Regions from separate parts of the Homo sapiens genome. Here region 2 is linked to region 1. Evidence: fine-mapped expression QTL. Tissue or cell type: whole blood. Region 1 holds a variant in brackets; the other region holds the start of a gene. All regions are shown on one strand. Distances are between the middles of the regions.

What was found. PIP is the estimated chance that this variant, and not a neighbour inherited with it, causes the effect.
Region 2: ARL6IP4 starts here. The variant in region 1 is fine-mapped to the expression of ARL6IP4 in whole blood (TOPMed, PIP above 0.99).

The regions. Positions count from the first base shown.
Region 1 is chr12:123,026,223-123,034,395 of GRCh38, forward strand. All of the region lies in intron 3 of PITPNM2 (phosphatidylinositol transfer protein membrane associated 2), which reads right to left. Among named protein-coding and RNA genes, the nearest start is that of MIR4304, 20 kb to the left of the region's middle. RefSeq lists enhancers at 1,339-2,297, 2,298-3,255. The variant G/A (reference allele first, on the strand shown) is at 3,405.
Region 2 is chr12:122,976,555-122,984,727 of GRCh38, forward strand. It overlaps ARL6IP4 (ARF like GTPase 6 interacting protein 4), which reads left to right and starts at 4,127. Exons shown (of 6, transcript NM_018694.4): 1 at 4,127-4,191; 2 at 4,575-4,745; 3 at 5,017-5,325; 4 at 5,403-5,520; 5 at 5,915-5,984; 6 at 6,066-6,355. The coding sequence starts at 4,586. The coding sequence ends at 6,122. It overlaps OGFOD2 (2-oxoglutarate and iron dependent oxygenase domain containing 2), which reads left to right. Exons shown (of 7, transcript NM_001304833.2): 3 at 100-213; 4 at 317-416; 5 at 1,888-2,015; 6 at 2,199-2,456; 7 at 2,529-3,488. The coding sequence ends at 2,792. PITPNM2 (phosphatidylinositol transfer protein membrane associated 2) reads right to left here. Exons shown (of 26, transcript NM_020845.3): 26 at 6,926-8,173. RefSeq lists enhancers at 3,324-3,543, 3,700-4,205, 4,206-4,711 and silencers at 3,794-4,433, 4,444-4,543.

The DNA.
Region 1 (8,173 bases):
TGGGTGGAATGTCCCCACCAGGCCCTTGGAATGTGACCTTATTTGGAAATAGGGTCTTTGCCGATGTAAATGGAGTGACGTGGCCACAAACTAAGGTATGCTTGGAGCCACCAGAAGCTGGAAGAGACAAGGAAGGGTCTACCCGTAGAACCTTTGGAGGAAGTGCAGCCCTGCGGACACCTGCCTCTCTGGTTTCTGGCCTCCAGAACTGTGAAAGAATAAATGTCTATTGTTTCAAGCTATGCAGTTTGTGGTTCTTTGTTATGGCAGCGCCAGGAAATAAGATACCTGGGATGCTGGCAGGCTCAGTGAGAAGGTGTGTAAGACAGGGGGTCCAGAGCTGCCTGCAGGAGTTTCTTTGGGCAGAGGCCTGGTGACCCACCTGCCAGCAGCTGAGGGTGGAGCCAGGACAGGGGCCAGGAGGGTCCCTTCCACCTTGGCCTTGCTGGGTGGCTGCGCAGAAGCCCCTGCCCACTCAGGCAGACTTCACGCCTTTTCCAGGACAGCAGGCTCACCCAGTAGCATCCTGTGCGGTCTAGGGAGGATGCCTCCTGCCTCTTCCAGCTGCTGCTGGCTCCCAGTGCTCCTTGGCCCATGCTGTATCTCTCCAATCTCTGCTTCATCTTTCCTGTGTCTTGGTCCTTTCCTTTTCTTATAGGGACACTAGTCATTCATTCAGGGACCTCTCTAAATCCAGAATGATCTCATTTCAAGATCCTTAACAAATTACACCTTCAGAGGCCCTATTTCAAAATAAGGCCACATTCTGAGACTGCAGGTGGATGCAGATTCTGGGGGGGACACTGGTCACCAGTGGGGTGAGTGCCCACAATGGCCTCCTGTGAGTGAGCTTCAGCCTGCCTGCTGGAGAAACAAGCACACTACACTGATGGCCCCCCACCTGTCCCTCATCTCTCGGTGGGGCAGGTGGAGTCCTCACCACCTCCCACCCAGCCCTTGGCCACATACATCTTCAGTCACCAGCACTTTCCCCAGTGTATGGTGACTCTTCATGCTGACTCCAGTACCCCTGGCCTTGCCACCCATAGGTGACCCTGTGCTATGTGTAGCTCTGAGTATCTGAGCACTGGAAGGCAGAGCTGTGAAAGGGAGAGCACTGGCTTCAGAGTCAGACAGGGTGGAGAGCATGTAACCTCCAACAGCTGGAACTTCAGAGAAGGGGTGAACTAGGAGACCTCAAAGTGCTCCACTAAAAGCAATGTGAAAAAGGCAGCCCACCACATCTCTGGGCAGACTGGTATCATTAGGCCAGCTATGCACCCTTGGGCAAGTTCCTTGATATCTCTGAGCCTCGAGCTGTCATCTGGGGATGGGGATGAATGGGGATGAGTACCACCAACTGTGCAGGTTATCGTGAGGATTAAAGCAGGTTCTGATCATTTGCTGGACACTGATTCAGTCGGCTGTGGAGGGGTGTGAGGGCTGCAGTCAGTGGCAGAGCCACTGGGAGCCAGACGGGACCCCCTGTATAGCACTTTGGTGTTTCCTGAAATAGATGCTAGGTAAAGATTGGTCAAATGAAGAATGGATTCTAGTTCCAACTGTCACCAGGAACTTCAAAGCTGGCATCACCAAGGGCAGCCAGTCCTCCCCAAGCTGACCTCTGGCTCCCCACCAGTGATGGCGTCCAAGGGGGGCAGGCCCCTCCTGGCACAGCTACTCAGTCATGCCACTTAGGAGCAAGCTCTTCTCGAATCACTCTGATCTCTGCCACATGAGCAGCCACCCCCTCGTCCCTGCCTACCATTCCCCTAAACAGTGCTGCGGTACTGTTTTCAGAGACAGCGGCAGTTGGACAGCAGAGACAGGCCTGGCTCCCCAGGGGCTAACGAAGGAGTTGGGGGAGGATGCAAAGAAAGATCAAGACCAAGAAACCCCTGAAAGCAGCCGCTCCCAGGGTCCTGGCCAGGCCACCTCCGGCCACTCCCTCGGCGGCACACATTCGCTGAACACCTCGGACGGATGGCCCTCTCCCAGCCAGGCAGACGATTTTGTTTTCTCACCTTTAACACGGTGTATATTGAGTGCTGCTCCAGCAGGGTGCCAGGTACTTTGACGCGCGAGCCCAGCCCATCTTTTTCACAACCTTCCAGCGGGGCAGCTTGCAGAGAGGAAGGCCTATTCCTAGCTGCCACTGGCTGGCAAGTGGCAGAAGTGGGAAATGATGAACTAAGGTCTTCTTATTATTCTTTCCACAAAAACACAGCAGTCTTCTTGAAGGCCTATCCATCTTGGGAGGCCAGTGCAGACTGTGCCCTTGAGCCTGTGCTGAAACGTATGTGAAATCTATCTTCCCAGAGAACGGGAAGGACTTTCATCCCCCTCTGCAACTCAGCCCTTGGCACAGGAAGTGCACAGGAAAGTCAGGTGACTTTAACTTACTTTTTAGCAATGTTACTGAGGTATGACTGACATACAATAAGCTGTACACATGTAAAGGAGCAGCTGGTGATTCTGACGTACGTTCACACTTTTGAGTCCATCACCCCACAGTGACAAGAACCCCAGGAACCGCAGGTTAGAAAAAGGCTAGAGCGGGCACAGACGGGCAGGTGGGGCTGGGAAGAATGAGTGCCCTCAGGACCCAGAGGGTCAGAGGAAGCTGCCTGGAAGAGGGGCATTCACACCAGCCCTGCAGGAGGGGCAAGAGCTCTCAAGATGGAAATTGGGCTGACAGTAGGGGTCTTGGTGACAGGAAGGGCACAGGTAGTGCCTTGGGTCTCCAAGTCGGGGTGGCCTGAACCTCTCCCCTCCTGCCCACCTGCTCTGCCCTCAGGCCTGGGAGCCACAGCACAGGCTGGGGTTGAGAGGGGAGATCCCTCCCAATGCTGCCTCCTCCCCAATCTAGACACTGGCACCTCCTGGTCCTCTCCGCCTGCCAGGGTGCCCTCACCTCTGAGATTGGCAGCAGCCTCCCTTGGCCTACTAGGGGTCCCAAAGAGGCCACCTAGGAGCCCGGAGATCTGAGCTCCAACCCTGGCCCTGTGGACCTCAATTTCCCCATATGTAAAATGGGAAACTATGCTCTCTGAGAGCCTAGCTTAGGTTACAGATAAAGAAACTGGCTGTGCATGGTGGCTCATGCCTGTAATCCCAGCACTTTGGGAGACTGTGGGTGGATCACCTGAGGTCAGGAGTTCAAGACCAGCCTGGCCAACATGGCGAAAGCCCATCTCTACTAAAAATACAAAAATTAGCCAGGCATGGAGGCGGGCACCTGTAATCCCAGCTACTGGGGAGACTGAGGCAGAGGAATCGCTTAAACCCGAGAGGCAAAGGTTGCAGTGAGCTGAGATTACACCACTGCACTTCAGCCTGGGGAACAGAGTGAGACTTCATCTCAAAAAAACAGAAAAAGCAACCAAGAGGAGCACTACCCCCTT[G/A]GGTCTTGTGGTGTATGTGTGTGTGTGTGTGTGTCTGTGGAGATGCATGTACACATGTGCACATATGTGTGCATGTTGTGTGTGCATGCATGTGTCTGTATAGGTCTGTGCATGTGTCTGCATGTATTTGTGTACATACCTGTATGCATAGGTGGCTGTGCTTGCATGTACATATGTTGTGTGTGGACACACATATGTGTCTGTGTGTGTGTGTGTGTGTGTGTGTGTGTGCACTAGAGCCATGGGTGAGGGAGGGAGGAGCAGCCCATGTGCACTAAAGAGGATATGAGCCAGAAACTGGGAAAACAGACCCACAGACCTAAACCCTGCCCTGAGACACTCACTGTCCAGCAGGAAGCAGACAGACACCCACAAAGAGGTGGAAGGCACTAGGTGCCCAGGTGTGGGACTGACAGGAAACTGCGAGGATTCAGGGAAAGAAATCACTCATGCTGCCCATGGAGATCAGAAAAGCCTCCGAGAAGGACACAGCATGCTGGCTGGTCTGAAAGATGGGCAGAAGGACCCTTGAGATAACCTGGGGACTCTTCTGTTTCAAAACATACTCACTAGGGTAGCATTTATTTAAAAAGAGGACAGTAAGTGCTGGTGAGGATGTGGAGAAACTGGAAACTTCATACATTCCCAGTAGGAATGTAAAATGGTGCAGCCACTGTGGAAAACAGTCTGGTGGTTCCTGCAGACATCAAGCATAGCGTCACCATGTGACCCAGAAATTCCCTTCCTAGGTGTAGACCCGGAAGAATTGAAAATAGATACTTGTAGGCCGGGCGCGGTGGCTCACGCCTGTAATCCCAGCACTTTGGGAAGCTGAGGCGGGCGGATCACGAGGTCAGGAGCTCGAGACCATCCTGGCTAACATGGTGAAACCCCGTCTCTACTAAAAATACAAAAAATTAGCCAGGGGTGGTGGCACGCGCCTGTAGACCCAGCTACTCGGGAGGCTGAGGCAGGAGAATGGCGTGAACCCGGGAGGCGGAGCTTGCAGTGAGCTGAGATGACGCCACTGCACTCCACCCTGGGCGACAGAGCGAGACTCCATCTCAAAAAAAAAAAAAAGAAAACAGATATTTGTATGCTAATGTCAACCCAAATGTCCATCAATGGATGAATGGATAAGCAAAATGTGGTCTGTTCATACAGTGGAATATGATTCAGCCATAAAACGTAATGAGGCACTGACACATGCTATGACATGGATGAATCCCAACAACATGACACTGAGTGAAAGAAGCCAGACACAAAGAGCAACACTGTGAGTGATGCCATGCACATGAAATGTCCAGAACAGGCAAACCCAGGGAGACAGGTAGTACATTAGTGATTGTCAGGGGGTGGGGAGGGGGAGTGAGGAGTGACTGTTTAATGGATATGGGGTTTCTTTCTGGGGTGATGAAAGTGTTTTGGAACTAAAGTTGGTGGTTGCACAACATTGTGAGTATACTAAATGCCACTGAATTGTTCACTTAAAAATGGTTGTTAATGTTTTGTGAATTTCACCTCAATAAAAGCAAAACAAGACAACAACCAATCAAGTAAGCCCAAAGCCCCTAGTCCCAAAAGAATTTCTTCCAAATGCTATAGAGACCTGATAGCCTGAGCCCCGTCCATGCAGACAGTAGGCAGGCCAGCGTTTTGCCCCTCAGAGGGCACACGACCTATGGGCCTGGCAATATCTTGGAGCTCATTTTGTTGGAGCTCGGACTGGGGGCTGTGGAGGCCAGAACCCAGCGATGCATCCGCCTGTCTAAGACCCAGCTGGGGCAGGGCTGGCCAGCAGGGGCCTTAAGTGCATGGGAAACTTCCCAGTCAGTAGCTCTAGCAGGAACCTATGGCTTCCTGGTAACTACATGAGGGCTGAAGCACCTCAAACACAGCAATTAGTCCTCAGGCCGGAGACAGCACACACCAAGAACACAGAGGACACAGGTGCAGGGCACTAGCACCTGTGATGTGCAGCAGACCCCCTGCCCATCACCAAGCTGTCTATCCGACACCCCCAGCCTCAAGGCCTGCCCAGAGGAGAGCTGCCCAGCCAGCCAGCCTGAGCAGGAACACCAACAGCCTTGCCCCCAATCTCCCCTCCAAGCATGCTAGTGCCTGTCACAGAAGCACCTCTCCCGGCAATACCTGGTTTCTTTCACCTTTCTTTTTTAACAGGAAAGCAGACGTGTGCACACATGCTTGCTCACCCAGAAGGTGCACAGGGAAAGGCTCTGGAAGCTCAGAGGAGCAGCAATGACTCCAGCTAGCCCTTAGAGGCCACAGTGTCTCTGCCTAGCTGGGGAGGATGCCCATCTGTCCAACAAGCTCTCACGAAGGGCCCTGAGAGTGCTGATGCTCACGATCTGCAAGGCGGGAGATGTTTCCATCCTGCCACAATCCTAATCAATGGAGCTTCTCAAAAGACACTGCATGTGTCGGCTAGATGGACGGGGCCTGGCTGCACAGCTGCAGGAAGGTCTGAGCGTCTAACAGGGAACTATATGATGCTTAACAGTTACATTCATTCGAGGCATAAGGATAGGTGTTCAAAAAAACCCTGAAGTGGCTGGGCATCGTGGCTCACGCCTGTAATCCCAGCACTTTGGGAGGCCAAGGTGAGTGGATCACAAGGTCAGGAGACTGAGACTGTCCTGGCCAACATGGTGAAACCCTGTCTCTACTAAAAATACGAAAATTAGTTGGGTGTGGTGGCGCGTGCCTGTAATCCCAGCTACTCCGGAGGCTGAGGCATGAGAATCGCTTGAACCCAGGAGGTGGAGGTTGCAGTGAGCCGAGATCACGATGCTGCACTCCAGCCTGGCGACAGAGCAAGACTCCATCTCAAAAACAAACAAACAAACAAACAAACAAACAAAAACCTGGAGTGACAGGTGTTTTGAGGAGCCCAGAGGTGATTCTATGCTCCAGAACAGCTTTGGGATCTCCTGGGGGCTGGAGGTCAGTCCTCCCGATCTTGACAGCCACCGGGAGGCCAGGTGGAGCTGAGGGGCTCCTGTGGTCTGGGTTCACCCTGGCTTGGGTGGGAATTGAGAAGCAGTAAGACAACAGCAGCACTGGCAGATCAGCCTGGTCCTTGAACACGCTGAGCTATTTCCAGAGTGCTCAGAGATGGGGGGCTGATTTAAGCTGCTTCCTCTCTCTCCACTCTCTAGAAATAATTATCGGGTAAGTGGTTCAAGAGGGAATTGAGTGGTCCTTCTGAAGCAGCTCAGAGCAAACAGCCCCCCGGAGAGGCTGGGTTCACCTTCCGTTCTTTTCCCAGCCAAGGCTCCCACATAGGGGAGCCTGGACAAACCCTTGCAGCTTCCTCAAGCTCCTCCCAGAAGGCAGCTGGGGCTGCAGGCTCTGCTGCGAGCTCACAGCTACCTCCCCTGACCTGGGTGGAAGGTGGGAGCCCAATAGGCGAAGCCAGTGATGGGAGGTGGAGGCCCTGCTGAAGCCTTTCCCCCACACCAACGACTCAGTCTGATGCTGTAATTAAGGGGTTGTACAGCAAGAAGCTGGAGGAGGGCAAGCCCCACTGGGTCACAGGGACTGGAGGCACTGATATGCCCAGAGGAGCCAGAGCCAGGCTGACAGCAGGTTCATAATCAGTGTGGGAAGCCCGAAGACCCTCAGCCTGGAGGGAAGCTGCCGGGCTAGGCCATGCCAGGCACTGAGGGTGGACAGAAGGCCAGCAGGAGAGCTGGGATGGAACCTCTACATAGAAAGGACTGCAGCCAGGACTGCAGCAAGTGGGAGCAGTGGTCCCATCTGGGGTCAGCCAGAGGCAGCCAGGTCTTGTGTTCCAGGTTGATCAGGCACTGAGTAGGGAGACTGGAGGTGTCTCCTAAGCAAGAGTCTCTGGCTCGTCAAAGGAGCCTGTCATCCTCAAACTCCTGTGTGCGTCTGTAAGTGAGCCACATGTCTGACACTGCTTTTTTGCAAGCAGTCAGGGTGGTGAGGAAAGCATGGAGCTGGGAGCTAGGAGACAGGCCCTGTGCTCCTTGGCAAGGCATTTAACATCTCTGGGCCTCATACGCCTTCCTGTCTGTAGAATGGGGTGTTATGGACTGAATGTCTCTGTCCCCCTAAAAGGCCTGACCCCCAGTGTGATGGTATTTGGAGATGGGGCCTTTGGGTGGTAATCAGGGCTAGATGAGATCATATGGGTGGGGCCCTCACAATGGGACTGGTGTCCTTAGAAGATAAGGAAGGGTGGAAGATGAGGGATTACTTAATGAGTACAGGGTATTTGAGTGATAGATACCCTACAAGCACCATTTTCCAATCTGTGCATGCAACAAAATTACAGTTGTATCCTATACATTTACACAAATAAAAAACAGAGGAGAAAAAGAAAAAGAGAAGACACCAGAGCCTGCTCACTCTCTGCCATGTTAGGAAACAGGGAGAAGGCGCCCATGTGCAAGCCAGGAAGAGGGCCCTCACCAGAAACCGCACTTGCCAGGCCTTGATCTGGGACTTCCGGCCCCCAGAACTGTGAGGAAGTGTGTTCCTCTACGCCCCCAGTTTGTGGTATTTACTGATGGCAGCCCAGGCAAACTGAAACATAGGAAAACATAGGGATAACGTCTGGGCCAGGGAGATAATGGTGCTGAACGCAAGGGCAAGTGTTCGCGTTGTAGGCGGCGGGACACAGTGCCGGAAAGCAATCTGATGCCGTGCGCCCATGGTGTGCTCTGTGCGCCTGGCATCGTGCCTAGAGGCCAGGGGTCCAGCACAATTCACACTTACCAGGA
Region 2 (8,173 bases), 50 kb before region 1:
TGGGCCCTGTCTGGCGTTCTGGGCTTCAGTTTCTTCATCTGTACAGTGGCCTCAGGAGGATGGGAGGCCCCACCTGGTAACAACCCTGTGCCACCCCAGCTTGAGCAGGAGGTGGAGCGGCGGCAGCGGCTGGGGCAGGAGTCAGCAGCTAGGAAAGCCCTCATCGCGAGTTCCTACCACCCGGCACGGCCTGAGGTCTACGACTCACTGCAGGTACCAGCCAGCCAGAGTGCTTGAAGGCCGGTACTGGAAAGAGGAGGTAGCATCCAGGGCTGGGGGTGCTGCCTGCCCCACAGCTGGTGTGTTTTGCTCCCAGGATGCAGCTCTGGCCCCCGAGTTCCTGGCCGTGACTGAGTACAGCGTGTCCCCAGACGCAGACCTCAAGGGCCTTCTCCAGCGGCTGGAGACAGTATCGGGTGAGGTCCTGGCCCTGAGACCTGGCAGGACCAGGGAATGGCAGCCTGGGAAACCTGGGTGTGGGATGCTGGGGTCCCTCCAGCCACCATCTCTGCCTCCAAAAACCAAACCAGCAGGAGCTGGAAGGGTCAGTGGGACCAACCTGCCAGGAGCAGGACATCCGCATTCATTCATTCAATACCTGCCATGAGCCTGGTATCTTCATTCTTTCCTTCACCCTTCCTTCGTGCCCTCATCCAGCAAATAGTGGATATTTGTGTCATGTGTGGGACAGCTGGCACACTCAAACAGGGCTGATCCAAGATCTTAAAGGGACCATTGAGACAGGTATGGGCAGGATAAAGGGACCAGTAAGGAATGGCAAAGCCCGGCCCCCCAGGGCTGGCAACAGGAGGGAGCAGTTACCACCTGGAGTTGTGGCTCTGGGCGGAGGCCTGCGGCCATGCCAAACTCCAAGTAGGGCAAAAAATGCCCCACTTCTCTTCGGATTTCTTGCTGGGCTCACTTATTGGCTAAACCCAGCAGGAAATGCTGGGCAAGGGAGGTTTGCGTGTTGTTTAACCTCTGATTCAGTTTCCTCATCTGTAAAATGGGAGCAACAGTAACCCCCTCTCTTAAGGCACTGCGACGATCAAGTGAGTTAATCTGCATAGAGTGCCTGTCACAGGGCCCGCACGTAGTGTTTGGAAAGTGTTTCCTATTCTTATTGGCACTGATAGCCTGGGCTAGGGGCTCCTGTGGGAGGCAGATACAAGTTTCCCCTCATGGAGCCTGTGCTTTGTTGGGAGTCATGGGTGGAATGAATCCCCCTCCTCCCAGCCTGGGGGTGCTCTCCTCATTGCCTTCCACTCCCCGGCAGCTGAGATAGTGCTGAGGCTGTTGGCTGGGGCAGGGCCTAGGCTGCGAGGTGGCCCCATCGTGGGCACACTAGCCCTGCACCCCTGGGCATTGGTGCGTCCGCCAAGAAATGTTTAGGTTTCCATTCTCAGCCTGGTTTCTTCCCCCTCAGGGCCCAGCAAGAAAGAACAGCCCCTTCTGGCCTTCCTGCTGGGGGACAGAGGCTCCCAGAGCCACTTCTGAGTTGGGGTACAGACTTCGGTGGCTCATCAGATGAAAGGAGGTGCAGAGAGAGCCTGAAGTTGGCTCTGTGATCCCGACTTGGCTGTCACTGGCCTGCTGGGTGTCCCTGGGCTACTTCCTTCCCCTCTCTGGGCCTCAGGACCCATATGTGAGCTCCCAGGGCCAGCCCTGTGGACACTTGTAGAGTCTGGGGAAAGGTTCCGGGCATAAGTGGGGGGCATGGGAATCGGCCTCCCCTGCTCCTCATGTTACTTCCTTAAGTCATCACAATAGCCCTGAAAAGCAAAGGCCTCATCTCCATGGCACAGGTGATGAAACAGGAAGACTGAAGCCCAGGCCTGGCCGGCCCACGGCCACATTCAGGCCAACAGACCATCCCTCCTTCCACAGAGGAGAAGCGCATCTACCGGGTGCCTGTTTTCACAGCGCCCTTCTGCCAGGCCCTGCTGGAAGAGCTGGAGCACTTCGAGCAATCGGACATGCCTAAGGGGAGGCCCAACACCATGAACAACTACGGGGTGGGTGAGGCCTGGCCGGTGGCAGAGGAGGGGGTGGCTGGGGTCAGGAGGCAGTGTCAGAGGTTCTGCAGATGGGCTGCCTGCCCGGGCTGCGAAAGAAGGTCACAGTGGGATCACCGTGGAGTGGAAGCCCAGGGTTGCAGCCCTCTAGTTTCCTTGCTGACCCCAGGAATCCCCTCCCAGGTGCTGCTGCACGAGCTCGGGCTGGACGAGCCGCTGATGACACCACTGCGGGAGCGCTTCCTGCAGCCGCTGATGGCCCTGCTGTACCCTGACTGTGGCGGGGGCCGGCTCGACAGCCACCGGGCCTTTGTGGTCAAATACGCACCGGGCCAGGACCTGGAGCTGGGCTGCCACTATGATAATGCCGAGCTCACCCTCAATGTGGCCTTGGGCAAGGTCTTCACAGGGGGCGCCCTGTATTTTGGGGGCCTCTTCCAGGTGAGTGTGTGACCCATGCGGCAGGGCCTGGGGCAGCTGTGAGTGCCCAGGCCTGAGTCGTGCCATCTGCAGGCACCCACAGCCCTGACGGAGCCCCTGGAGGTGGAGCACGTGGTGGGCCAGGGTGTCCTCCACCGTGGCGGCCAGCTGCATGGAGCCCGGCCCTTGGGCACTGGTGAGCGTTGGAACCTTGTCGTCTGGCTCCGAGCCTCTGCTGTGCGCAACAGCCTCTGTCCCATGTGCTGCCGTGAGCCCGACCTGGTGGACGATGAGGGCTTCGGTGATGGCTTCACCCGAGAGGAGCCCGCCACGGTGGATGTATGTGCGCTCACCTGAGCTTGCTTGGGCCCAGTGTGGGGGTGGCAGGCAGGTGAGGGCTCCGTTGCCTTGGTCTGGGGGCAGAAATAAAATCCCCGCAGCCTACTGCACTTCTTGGCTCAACGGTGTGCCAGCTTCTGGGTCATTCTATGGGCAAAGATGCTGCCTTAGTTCAGGTTTGTCAGAAGCAGGGTCTGGAATGGGGCTTCAGCGAGGGAGTCAGGGAAGCAGGGGAGGGGAGGGAGCAGCTGGGCAAGGAAGTGGCTTCAGAGGACGTCCAGCCTCAGCTGGCCCCACGGAGAGCTCCAGGCAGAGCCCACAGTACCACAGTGTGCCCACACCACCGGTTACTGGCTCCTGGATGAGGGGGCCAGAGAGGAGTGAATAACTTCCCAGACACTTATCTCCAGGGCAGGGTGCCTTCCAGTAGCCAAGGGAAGCCTCCAGAGAGCACAGATGTGAACCCTCAGCAGCAGGCATCACCCCCCAGTGGACTCGGGTGGGCCACCAGTAGCATCTTCTAGATGGCAGAGGGGTGAATGGCAGGGCCAGGAACCAGGCTGCCCGGGTTCCCATTCTGCTTCTGCCACTTCCAGCTGTGTGGCTTTAGGTGAGCCTTCACCTTTTGGTGCCTTCGTTTCCTCATTTAGCACCTACCTCCTAGAGCTGTTTTGGGAGTCAAATGCGCTGACGTATATAAAGTGCTTTGCAAGATCCCTTTGTGTTTGCGGCTGTCATTGTGGAAGAGTTGCAACTTGGGGGCCCGAGATTGGATGAAGCGCACAGCCACGCTTTGGGTTACACATTTGAAACTCAGGGGGCTTCCATATTGCAGTCTTGAGTTTGGTCTCCCTGGGAAGGTGGGGCACCAGCCCCATGCCACGTTGCACGTATCAGCTGGAGCAGAATCCTGGCTTCCTTCCGGATGGGCCTGGGGTCCATGCCCGCGCTCACTGCCAAGATCTTTCTGGCCCCTACGGACACGAGTTTGCGACCTCTGAGTCACTGGGTGGGCGCGTCGGAAAGACCAGGGCGCCTCAGTCTGGAGCTCGCAGTCGTATGGAGAGGGCAGGACCAGCCGGGGAGGAGGGCGGCGCGCGCGAGGGTCGCCTTCTTCCCAGGGCACCGGGGGCGTGGGTGCTGCGGGCGTGCGCCGAGAGGGCAGCCTTGGAAGTGGGCGCAGCTTCGGCAGACACAGGCGTGAGGGGCTGCGGAGCTCGAGGGCCGGCGCCCCTGCTTGCCTCTGCGGGAGGTGGGCGCGCCCGGGACGGAACCTGGGGCGTCAGAACGAAAGGCAGCGGCGCCGCGCTTCCCAGCCGGCCAGCCTCCCGCGCAGCGCCCCGGCCGGAAGCCTCCTCGCCGCCGCTTCCTCTCGAGAAGGCGCGGGGCGGGCTGTCCGGCCCGCAGGGCGGTCGAGGTGGGAACGGAGCAGCCCCGGGGGCCCCCTTGAGGCGGCGAGGCCGCGAAGGGCGCGGGGCTGGAGGGTAGGAGAGCGCGGGAAAGCGCCCCAGACGCCACTCGCGGCGGACGGCGGCCAGTTCCCAGGGGTTTGGAGCCGGGTGCGCAGGCGTGGGGCCTCCGGGCACGGGGCGGGCCCTTAACAGGCACCGCTGCGGGGACTGGAGTCGGCGGAGAAAACCGGGGTCCCCAGCGCTGGGGGTGGGTGAGGGTCGCTCATTTTCCCGGGACGGTGACGGGTACTGGGCGTCGCCAGGCCCCGGCCCCGCTAGAGCCACCCTTGGAGCCCGCCCGCGGCCGGCCTTGGGGGCTTCGGCTCAAGCGCGTCTTCTTCGTCGCCAGCCCGCGGCGCCATGGCTCACGTCGGCTCCCGCAAGCGCTCGAGGAGTCGCAGCCGGTCCCGGGGACGGGGGTCGGAAAAGAGAAAGAAGAAGAGCAGGAAAGACACCTCGAGGAACTGCTCGGCCTCCACATCCCAAGGTCGCAAGGCCAGCACGGCCCCTGGGGCGGAGGGTGAGGACCACAGGCATCGGGGAGAGGAGGCGCAGTTACTACCCGGGGAAGTCGGGCGAGCAGTGGTCGGGGACGCTCAGTCATGCCTCTGTGCAGCCGGGCCTGAGATGTGAGGGCCAGGCGCCGCAGGAGCCAGGAAGGGGCTCCTCTGGGAAGCTCCATCTCTGTTCTGGAAAGCCCCTCAGGAAGCGCTCACCCTGTAGCCGGTCTGTGCCTGCCCCAGGCCAGAGCAGGGGACGAAGGTTTACCTCTTCCCCTCCTGGCCTTCCAGCCTCACCTTCTCCCTGCATCACAGAGAGAAGCAAGCAGAAGGCCCGGAGGAGAACAAGATCCAGCTCCTCCTCCTCTTCTTCCAGTTCTTCTAGCTCCTCTTCTTCCTCCTCGTCCTCCTCCTCTTCCTCCAGTGATGGCCGGAAGAAGCGGGGGAAGTACAAGGACAAGAGGAGGAAGAAGAAGAAGAAGAGGAAGAAGCTGAAGAAGAAGGGCAAGGAGAAGGCGGAAGCACAGCAGGTGGAGGCTCTGCCGGGCCCCTCGCTGGACCAGTGGCACCGATCAGCTGGGGAGGAAGAGGATGGCCCAGGTACTGTGCTGCCCAGCACCTGAGAGGGAGAAGGTCGCTTCCCAAGGCCTGGCCACCACCTCCGTCTTCCCTTCCAGTCCTGACGGATGAGCAGAAGTCCCGAATCCAGGCCATGAAGCCCATGACCAAGGAGGAGTGGGATGCCCGGCAGAGCATCATCCGCAAGGTGGTGGACCCTGAGACGGGGCGCACCAGGTGGGGAGCTTTCGGCCTGACTTACACCACAGGATCTGGGAGTGTTGGCTGAAGATGTGTGCTCTCGGGAGGAGTGGGGCCGGGCGGGGTTCCTGGTGCCTGAAAAAGGCCAAATGTGGGCAAAAATACGGTCACTTGGAGTAAGTAGTTGCAGGGGCTGGAAGGGCCTGGAGGAGGCTCTTGAAAGGGCTGTTGTTGGCCGGGCTGAGGCTGGCAAGGCAGAGCCCAGCTCCACTGCCTTCATCAGGGAGAGTGGGTGAGGCCCCAGGGTCTGTCCACTCAAGGCTGCGGGGTGGGAGCCCTGGGACCCCTCTGCCGGCTGCTTGTGGTTCTGCTCCTCTGGCATTAGGGGACCTGCCTATTCCTTGCTGAACGGAGACCCTCCCACCCCCAGGCTTATTAAGGGAGATGGCGAGGTCCTAGAGGAAATCGTAACCAAAGAACGACACAGAGAGATCAACAAGGTGGGTGTGGCCCCTCTGCCTGCCATCCGCCCCCAGCTCTGTTTGTGATGTACCCCTCCTCCTGTGTGCTTTCTTCCCCAGCAAGCCACCCGAGGGGACTGCCTGGCCTTCCAGATGCGAGCTGGGTTGCTTCCCTGAGGGCCCCCGCTGGCCAAGGCCTGTGGACGACGCTGGCGGCCCAGCCTGGGCAGGTTTCAGGGTGCCAGTGGGAAGCCTGATGGGTGCTGGTGGCCTTTCCCCCGTGGATTGGTCTCTGGCCCAGCCCAGTCTCTTCTCAGGGGCAGGGGGTGGAGGTTGGGGTCACCGGCCTGCTTGGCACCCCCATCTGAAAGAGCAGCACTTCTCAGCTATTAAAGGCCCCCTGGATAGACTTTCTCTGTTCTGTGGCTTTTTGTGCTGAGTGGGAGGGAAGGGTGCTACATGACTGCCAGGGAAAAACAAGGGCTCCGGGAGCTTTTGGGCAAAGCTGGGGTGTCCTCTGGTGGTCGTGAGCACAGGCCACACCAGCGCCTGTGCCTTCCTCTTCAGGTCAGCCTGCCTGGACCAGACCTCATGCCAGCTGAACCCCAAACCCAGAGAGCTGGCTCTGAAATGCCATGCACTCAGGCATGGAGAGAGTCGGCTTCCCCTGCCATGTTCATTCCACAGATCGCAGCAGTGCAGAGCCAGGTGCTGGGGCTGGGTGGCCTGTGTGGCAGGTCTGGCTCTCACTGCCCAGCTGTGTCTTCCACTCTGAGGCAGGGAGGCTCACAGCACCCGTTTCACTGAGGTCTGTGAGGGCAAACTGAGTTCCATCCCAGGAAGGAGCTAGAAGCAGGCTAGGCCTAGAGTCAGCCCCGCACTCACGTGTTGGCGTCACTGTGAGTGTCACTAGCATTACTGTTCCATGCCCCCATCCCACCATGCCCCACGGTCGCCACTGCAGTAAAGAGATCCAGAAGGAAGCCTTCCCGCTTCTTTAATTGGTGTAACAGACATGACGTTGTATACAGAGCACACTCAGGCCCAATGATGCGGGGACAGCAGGGACGGATGGGGAGATGGGGACACTGCTCACACATGGCCCAGAGAAACAGACGGCACACGGACAGACCAGACGGGAGGGGCTGAGACGTGAAGGCTGTGATGGGGTGGGCAGTGGGACTCAGACCGAGCCAGGGAGGGGTGGGGGGTCTCTGCTGAATCCCTCTTTAGAAATCAAAGAGAAGGCAGGTGGTGGGGCGTGGGGGTGTGGTGGGAGTGGGACTAAGGCTTCTATTCTAACAGGCCTGGGGGGTGGCAGTCAGCAAGGCCTGCCTCACCCTTTGGTTATGACTGGTCAGGCCTGAGCCCTGCAGCTCAGCACCCAACTCTGTAAACATTTTTGGTATTTTTAAAGGACGCTGCCCTCCCTCTCTTAGTTTCAGAAAGACTGGTACTTCCTCAAGAGGAGAATGTGCCAAAAGGAATCTGAAGGGAGGTGGAAAGCAGACCTGGATACAGAAGAGACTTCCCATGGGGGGGCAGGCTGCCCACCTTGCCATCTATGGCTGAGGGCCGCTGGGAGAGCCCCAGGGGACTATTGCTGTTGTCCTTGGCATGGCTGGCGGCTGGGCAGGCAGGCGGGGAGTGAGGAGCCGTGGGGGAGCTGCCCCCCTGGGGAGAGGCTGAGCCCACTGCCCACAGGGCCTCCCGGCCTTTATTGCAGGAGGGCCCGAGACTCTTCCAGGTGCTTCTCTGGATGGCTGGTCTCCCAGGCAGCAGGCAAGACAGGATAAGGTGGGGCCAAGAGAGGAGGAGGCACTGGCCACAGGGCCCCTGACAGGGGCTGTGATTGTCGGGCCAAGCAACTTCCTGCTGGGAGCAGGGGGGTCAGATATTGCACTTTCACTGCAACAGTTACATGAAAACTTGGTCCATAAAATAATCGTTGCTTTATACATAATGCCTGAAACAACAAAAAGCTACATCTTAAATATGAATAAACCCTGAAGGTTCCATCCCTCCAGACTTTTTTCTCTGCACAAAATAAATAGCTTTCACTCTGTATAGACCCACTTTTGCAGAACATTTACACGACCCTTTGGCTGTACATATCTACACACGGGAAAAAGTTAACATCACTCTGTGCACCTCCCCAGCCCGGTCCATGCGTCCCAACACCAGACCCAGGTCGGCCGTAGCTTCTCGGGGACAGAGCCTGGTCGCTG